Linked DNA regions of Homo sapiens. The protein of the gene in region 1 purifies or fractionates together with the protein of each later gene. This does not show direct contact. Each region holds a gene or a part of one and is shown on either strand. Other genes may lie near its edges. The genes, in order: SH3BP1 and NLRP4.

The links.
Region 2: the proteins of SH3BP1 (region 1) and NLRP4 fractionate together in Homo sapiens (co-fractionation; one large-scale study listed by BioGRID). This does not show direct contact.

The regions. Positions count from the first base shown.
Region 1 is NC_000022.11:37,642,510-37,646,322, forward strand, and holds part of SH3BP1 (SH3 domain-binding protein 1), read left to right. Parts: exon of another isoform or gene 1-29; coding exon 30-106; exon of another isoform or gene 107-385; coding exon 386-497; intron 498-588; coding exon 589-665; intron 666-1,117; exon of another isoform or gene 1,118-1,134; coding exon 1,135-1,279; intron 1,280-2,127; coding exon 2,128-2,196; intron 2,197-2,360; coding exon 2,361-2,451; intron 2,452-2,855; coding exon 2,856-3,001; intron 3,002-3,813. UniProt on the Homo sapiens protein: GTPase activating protein (GAP) which specifically converts GTP-bound Rho-type GTPases including RAC1 and CDC42 in their inactive GDP-bound form.
Region 2 is NC_000019.10:55,867,510-55,871,322, forward strand, and holds part of NLRP4 (NACHT, LRR and PYD domains-containing protein 4), read left to right. Parts: intron 1-199; coding exon 200-367; intron 368-3,317; coding exon 3,318-3,488; intron 3,489-3,813.

The DNA.
Region 1 (3,813 bases):
ACTCATCGCCGGCCCCACCCTCCCTGCAGAAGAAGCTTCCCCTCATGGCTCTGTCCACCACGATGGCTGAGAGCTTCAAGGAGCTGGACCCTGATTCCAGCATGGGGTGAGCACAGACGGGGCCCAGCCCTCACCTGGGGATACCAAGACGTGATCTCAGCTGGGAGGGGGTCCAGGTGGTGAGGGCATCCACATCAGAAGAATGACCAGGCTGGGGACAGTTCCCAGGTCAGTGAGGGTGGCCAGGCCTGGGAGGGTGTTCAGCTTAGCAGAGATGAAGGATATCTAGGAGGGGCCGGAAGTGAGGGAGGAGAGGCCCCACCAAGTGTTTCCAGTGGAGGTGAGGGCAGCGGGCGCCTGGACCCATGGGGTGCCGTGTCCACAGGAAGGCCTTGGAGATGAGCTGTGCCATCCAGAATCAGCTGGCCCGCATCCTGGCCGAGTTTGAGATGACCCTGGAGAGGGACGTCCTGCAGCCACTCAGCAGGCTGAGTGAGGTGAGCCTGTGCCCTGCTTTCAGCCCCCAGCTTCCCCAGCTTCTGGCTCCCTCCTCCCCCAGCACACTGACCCCCCCATGCCCATCCCCAGGAGGAGCTGCCAGCCATCCTCAAACACAAGAAAAGCCTCCAGAAGCTCGTGTCCGACTGGAACACACTCAAGAGCAGGTGGGAGCCCCAGCCGCTCAGGGGGCTCATATCTGGGTCAGCCCACAGAGATGGTCATAGAGCTTTGAGGCCCTGGCCACACCAGGAGGATGCTGTGGGGTCTGCTGAGTACAGTGTGTGTACTTGTGCACGCCTGGTCCCTAGGAGCACAGGTGGTTAGCGTATCTGTGAGGGTGTGCCCGCGTGTGTCACAGCTGGTGCTGGGGCAACCCTAAAGCCTGGGATCCTGTAAACAGTCCTGCGGCAGCCCTGTTCTCCCCTCTGTGGAGTGGCTGTGATCACCAAATCTGCCACCAGGGGGCAACCCAGAGCACTCATGGCCCAGCCTGGGCAGAGGCCCCGGCCAGTGGAGCTCTCAGATCTGCAGCTCTAAATCCTAGAATCCCATGTGGTCTGCTGTATGGAGGGGACACTTGGCTCTGGACATGCAACAGGGCAGGTGACCAGCTCACCTTGGGATCATCTCCAGGCTCAGTCAGGCAACCAAGAATTCAGGCAGCAGTCAAGGCCTAGGAGGCAGCCCGGGTAGTCACAGCCATACGACCATGGCCAACAAGGTGGAGACGCTGAAGGAGGAGGAGGAGGAGCTGAAGAGGAAAGTGGAGCAATGCAGGGTGAGGGCCATGGGGGTCCCCTGGATATGTAGGGGTGGCAGGGGTGGGTCCTGGCCCATCTCACAGGCAAGGAAGCTGAAGTTCAGAGAGGTGACATGACTTGCCTAAGGCCACGTGGCTAGGAGCCAGCAGAGCTCCGCCATTCCCTCGTAGCCTCTTCTGTCTGTACCCCATGCATAACTTGGGAAGGCAGAGACTTGGTCTGTTCCCTGAGTCTCCATGTGTTTGTTTGCTGAGCGAGCGAGTGAATGAATAAATGAAGAGTGAATGAAAGAATGACTGAATGGTGAATAACAGGTCACTGTGCAAGGCCAGGCGCGGTGGCTTACGCCTGTAATCCCAGCACTTGGGGAGGCCGAGGCAGGCGAATCATGAGGTCAGGAGTTCAAGACCAGCCTGGCCAACATGGTGAAACCCTGTCTCTACTAAAAATACAAAAACTTAGCTGGGCGTAGTGGCGGGCGCCTGTAATCCCAGCTACTCAGGAGGCTGAGGCAGGAGAATCGCTTGAGCCCAGGAGGCGGAGGTTGCAGTGAGCCAAGATTGCACCACTGCACTCCAGCCCGGGCAACAGTGTGAGACTCCGTCTCAAACGAAACAAAACAAAAAACAAGGCACTGTGCTAAGTCTATGGAGACACAGAGATGGGGACGAGAAGCCAGAAAAGTTTGAGGGAGTTCCCAGGGGCTGGCCCCAAGCACCAACCTTGGCAGAGAGAGGAGCCTGGCTGGGACCTTCCACCTGCAGTTGTGTGGCCTGGGGGAGGTCACCAACCCTTCCAAGCCTCCTCTTCCCCTCTAGACCCCACAGCCTCACCCAACGTAAGCTCTCCCCTCTCTGTCCCCAAGGACGAGTACTTGGCTGACCTGTACCACTTTGTTACCAAGGAGGACTCCTATGCCAACTACTTCATTCGTGTGAGTCCAAGACCGGGCCCCAGCCATCCAGAGTTCAGGGGCTGAATGCCAGAGCCAGGGGCCACTGGGGCTCTAAGATGGTGGAGGGGGCGTCTGCTCTCAAGGACCCTATAGAAGGCTCAGCTTCCCCCACTTCCGCTCAGGGTGTCCCTTCATCCCCACAGCTCCTGGAGATTCAGGCCGATTACCATCGCAGGTCACTGAGCTCGCTGGACACAGCCCTGGCTGAGCTGAGGGAGAACCACGGCCAAGCAGGTGGGGACATAGGCCCGGCGATACCACACCCCTGACCCTGCCCTGCTCGGGGCTTATTGAGAAGCTCGCACTTCATCCTGAAAGGTAGCAGGAAGCTGTGGATGGGTTCTGAGAGCTAGGCTCAATCTGTGATGGAGAGGCAGCTCTGGCTACTGTGTGGAGGGTGGAGTGAAGCGGGCAGGACTAGAGCCAGGCCTGTGAGGCAGAAGGAGGCAACGGTGGCCTGGACTAGGACAGAGGCAGTGGAGGCGGGCTGATTCGAGAGATGTGACGGATGATTTCAGATGTGTGCCTGGACAGTCAGTGGCAGGTGGTACCACCTTGAGGACATGAAGGGGGGGTGCCCCTGCCTGACTGCTCGGGGTGGGAAGGCCCTGGGCCGCTGATCTGTTTCATCCCTGCAGACCACTCCCCTTCGATGACAGCCACCCACTTCCCCAGGGTGTATGGGGTGTCGCTGGCAACCCACCTGCAAGAGCTGGGCCGGGAGATTGCCCTGCCCATCGAGGCCTGCGTCATGATGCTGCTTTCTGAGGGCATGAAGGAAGAGGTGGGGTCCCCTGGGGCAGGTGGGGAAGGAGCACTGGGGCCCTCATTCTGTCCCAAACCGCCCACTTGCTGCCCTTTCCGGGTGCCTGTAATTCCCTCATTCGAGCCCAGCTCCCTGGGAGAAGACATGACTGCCTCCTGCGGCATCCACACTACCTCCCCCGTGTCAATGCTCGCGTGGGCCAAGCGCTGTACTAGAAGCCTTTGCATTCCAGGCTCCATTTCACAATTTCACAAGAGGGAGACAGAGGTAGAGAGGTAACCATGCCCAGAGTCATTTGAGAAGGTGACTTCTCAAACCAGGGGCTCCACTGCCACACACTGGCTGGATCTGCTGTGAATACATTGCCCCCCTGTCCTGAAGATAGACCCTAGTGGTGGCAGATACCCCAAAACAGTTCTGCGCTGCTCAGCAATCCTGCTGTGCTGGGGCCTCCTTTCTCCCTTACACTTTTTTTTTTTTTTTTTTTTTTGAGATATGGAGTGTTGCTCTGTTACCCAGGCTGGAGTGCAGTGGCGTGATCTCGGCTCACTGCAGCCTCTGTCTCCTGGGTTCAAGCGATTCTCCTGCCTCAACTTCACAAGTAGCTGGGACTACAGGCATGCACCACCACGCCCAGCTAATTTTTGTATTTTTTAGTAGAGATGAGATTATGTTGGCCAGGCTAGTCCTGAACTCCTAACCTCAGGTGATCCACCTGCCTCAGCCTCCCAAAGTGCTGGGGTTGCAGGCATGAGCCACTGCGCCCGACCCTTTTTTTTTTTTTGAGACAGGATCTCGCTCTGTCACCCAGGCTGTAGTGCAGTGGTGCG
Region 2 (3,813 bases), on another chromosome or scaffold:
TATAACTGAGACTGTGCATCTCAGGTTGGCTGTCTCTGTACCCCAGAGACTGGGTTGACAGGGATCAAGAACAGGGTTGGGAGGCAGTGAGCCTCTCAAGGACAGCAAATGTGGGCTTCCCGACTCTGACAGGATTGGCAAGAGGAATGAGTCCAGGAACTAGAAACCAACAGAATGTGACATTTTCCCTTTCCTGCAGGCTGGTAAATTGTCACCTCTCACCCATTGATTGTGAAGTCCTTGCTGGCCTTCTAACCAACAACAAGAAGCTGACGTATCTGAATGTATCCTGCAACCAGTTAGACACAGGCGTGCCCCTTTTGTGTGAAGCCCTGTGCAGCCCAGACACGGTCCTGGTATACCTGATGTGAGTGGATGTTGGGGGTGCCTACTGTGGAGGGCCATGGCGGCAGTTCAAACCTGGGCCTATTGATGACAGTCTGCTCATTGATGGAGGCCACATAGCGGAGGTTTAAAAGCTCACGCTTAAGAATCAGAAAAGACTTGAGTTCTAGTTCAGGATTTATCACGTATATACTGTCTTCTTAAGCAAAATATTTAACTTAGAAGCAGAGGAAAATCCTGTCTTAGAGGTCTTATGGCTATCAAGTGAGACTGTCTATACAGAACACGTACTGTGTTTCAAAGCTGTTAGGTTGGGTTAATGCACCTGCAACACACATGGTACTTCCCGTGTTGATAACGGTTATTTCGAGCATGTAGAATAGACTTGGTGGGTACTCAGGACAGTAGCGGGGAAAAATGTCTATGGGCCTCTTGACCCCAGTTAATACTATAATACATGTGATGTTCTTGCAGTAATAGGATGAGAAGAGGCTATTCAAGCCAGTTTTAGGGTACGTAAAACACAGAAGGAAGACAGATGAGTAAGTGTTAAAGGCCAATTGATTTACCTATTAATGGAATTCTAATACCTTTAGGTGATACTTATACAAAAGGGGAGAGGACAGGAGAATATATATGCATTTGTGTCTTTTTTTTTTTTTTTGAGTTTTGAGTTTTGCTCTTGTTGCCCAGGCTAGAGTGCAGTGGCATGATCTTGGCTTATCGCAACCTCTGCCTCCTGGGTTCAAGCAATTCCCCTGCCTCAGTCTCCCAAGTAGCTGAGATTACAGGCATGCGCCACCATGCCTGGCTAATTTTGTATTTTTAGTAGAGATGGGGTTTCTCCACGTTGGTCAGGCTGGTCTCGAGTGTGTCTATTTTTTAAATACACAAATATCACTGGAAGAAATAGTATTATAATATAGGCTGCCTGTGAGAAATAGAACTGAGAAGCTGGGAGATAGGGGAGGATGGAGATTTTTCCCTCTTTATACTTTTGGGCATTTTGAAATATGAACAACATGAAAGTAAGAGTATTCTGAAAATGTCAAGAAAATGAGAGGATTTATACCTCGAGCTAAAATAGAGGGACAGGGACAGGACTTAACCTCCCACCTAAAACAACCAAAAATAACCAACTAAATAAAACAACTGTTTAAGACTTCAGACATCAGGCAATGAAGGACAGTGGTGCCTGAGTGATAAGGGACAAACAGGTGAGTCCTAGAATTGTCCCAGGTAACTATCTGGAGAGAGATTTCAGGATGCAGTTCAGGAAGGGGAACCCAGATGGAAGTTGGTAGACTCTGTGAGTTGGTGAAACCCCGTCTCTACTAAAAATACAAAATACAAAAATTAGCTGGGTTTGGTGGTGCATACCTGTAGTCCCAGCTACTCTCGAGGGAAGCTGAGGCTGGAGAATCGCTTGAACCTGGGAGGCAGAGGTTGCAGTGAGCCGAGATCGCACCACCACACTTCAGCCTGGGTGAAAGAGCAAGACTGTCTCAAAAAAAAACAAAAAATAAACCAAAAAAAAAACAAAAAACAACAAAGTCCACAAATGCCTGGATATGCCAGAAAATTGAGATCCGTGAGAGAAGCAAGCTGGGTGAGGCCTCCGTGGAAATGCAGATCTTGTGTCTGTCAACAGGAAGCAGTTGCCCGTTCTGTCCTAGCCTGTTGGATTTCCATGTGGGAATGCGGCTCATTATTGCCAGATATCCCAGTTTTCAACAGAGGTTGAAATCTAGATTTTACATACAATTTTACTGATGGTTATATATTGCCAACTGATTTTGTTAAACATAAAAATGCCAGGAAATCTAAATATCCGTAGGCCATATGTGGTTCGTTCATCACTAGCTTGCACCGTCTGCTTTTTTGTTTTTCTCTACTCCACACTTTTTTTTCAAAGTCAACATGGATCCTTAAAAAAAAAAAATTCATAAACTGGCTGGGATTGGAGGCTCACACCTATATTCCCAACACTTTGGGACGTCAAGGCAGGTGAATTGTTTGAGCCCAGGAGTTCAAGACCAGCCTGGGCACCATGATGAAACCCTTTCTTGACAAAAAAATACAAAAATTAGCTTGGTGTGGTGGCACGCACCTGTAGTCTCAGCTACTCAGAAGACTGAGGTGCTGAGGTGGGAGGATCCCTTGAGCCAGGGAGGTAGAGGCTGCAGTGAGCTGTGATCATGCCACTGCACTCCAGCCTAGGTGACAGAGCCATACCCTGTCTCCAAAAAAAAAAAAGTTTTGAACCTACTGTGATTTTAAAGAATAATGAAATTGAAAAAGTTGGGGATTCTACACATGAGGTAATCAATACACTTTACCAGTCCCTGAGGGAGCGGTCTCAGAAGGTCCATGTCTTGTCCAAGGACATCATCAGATGAAGAATTAGAACCAAAATTAAAGCCCTGTTAGAGTATTAGCTATGCCATATTACACGATACTTTTTCCTTCTGCATTACCCTCTTATTTTCTAATTCTTCTATCATGCAACTAAGAAGAAATGAGAGGGCCGGACGCGGTGGCTCACGCCTTGTAATCCCAGCACTTTGGGAGGCCGAGGTGGGCAGATCACCTGAGGTCCGGAGTTCGAGACTAGCCTGGCTAACATGGTGAAACCCCGTCTCTACTAAAAATGCAAAAATTAGCGAGATGTGGTTGTGGGTGCCTGTAATCTCAGCTACTTGGGAGGCTAAGGCAAGAGAATCACTTGAACCTGGGAGGTGGAGGTTGCAGTGAGCCAAGATCGCGCCGTTGCATTCCAGCCCGGGCGACGACAGCAAAACTCCATCTCAAAAGAATAAATGAGAGGAGGTGTTTTCAGATAATCCAGAACTTCATCTCAGCTGGGGAGTTTGTAAGATTATAGAAATATTACCCTGAATGTGAAATTAAGCAAATCTCCCTGAGACACCACGTCCCTCTTCACTCTCCTTCTCGTGTTTTTGTCCCCATAGGTTGGCTTTCTGCCACCTCAGCGAGCAGTGCTGCGAATACATCTCTGAAATGCTTCTGCGTAACAAGAGCGTGCGCTATCTAGACCTCAGTGCCAATGTCCTGAAGGACGAAGGACTGAAAACTCTCTGCGAGGCCTTGAAACATCCGGACTGCTGCCTGGATTCACTGTGGTAGGCTTTTTGCTGTTTCTTTGAAGACCAAGCCGTCTTTTCAAGGGCATGCACTGCTGAGAATGGGGCATCTGGAATTGAGGAAGGCTGTAGTGTCTGTGCCTGGGCATGTGAAGGTTTAAAAAATACTTGCTTCAGATTCTTGTCGAGACGTTCATGTAAACAAATCAGCACCCTGACTTCTGTGGCATGGATTTAATATGTTGCAAAGAGTTCTCCAGTGGCATATAGGTAGAGGACTGAGAGAGCCGGAATTAGGTCGGGACCTGAGGGGCAATTTCATGGCGAAGATGATATTTGGTGTGTGTTCTACAAAATGAATGCA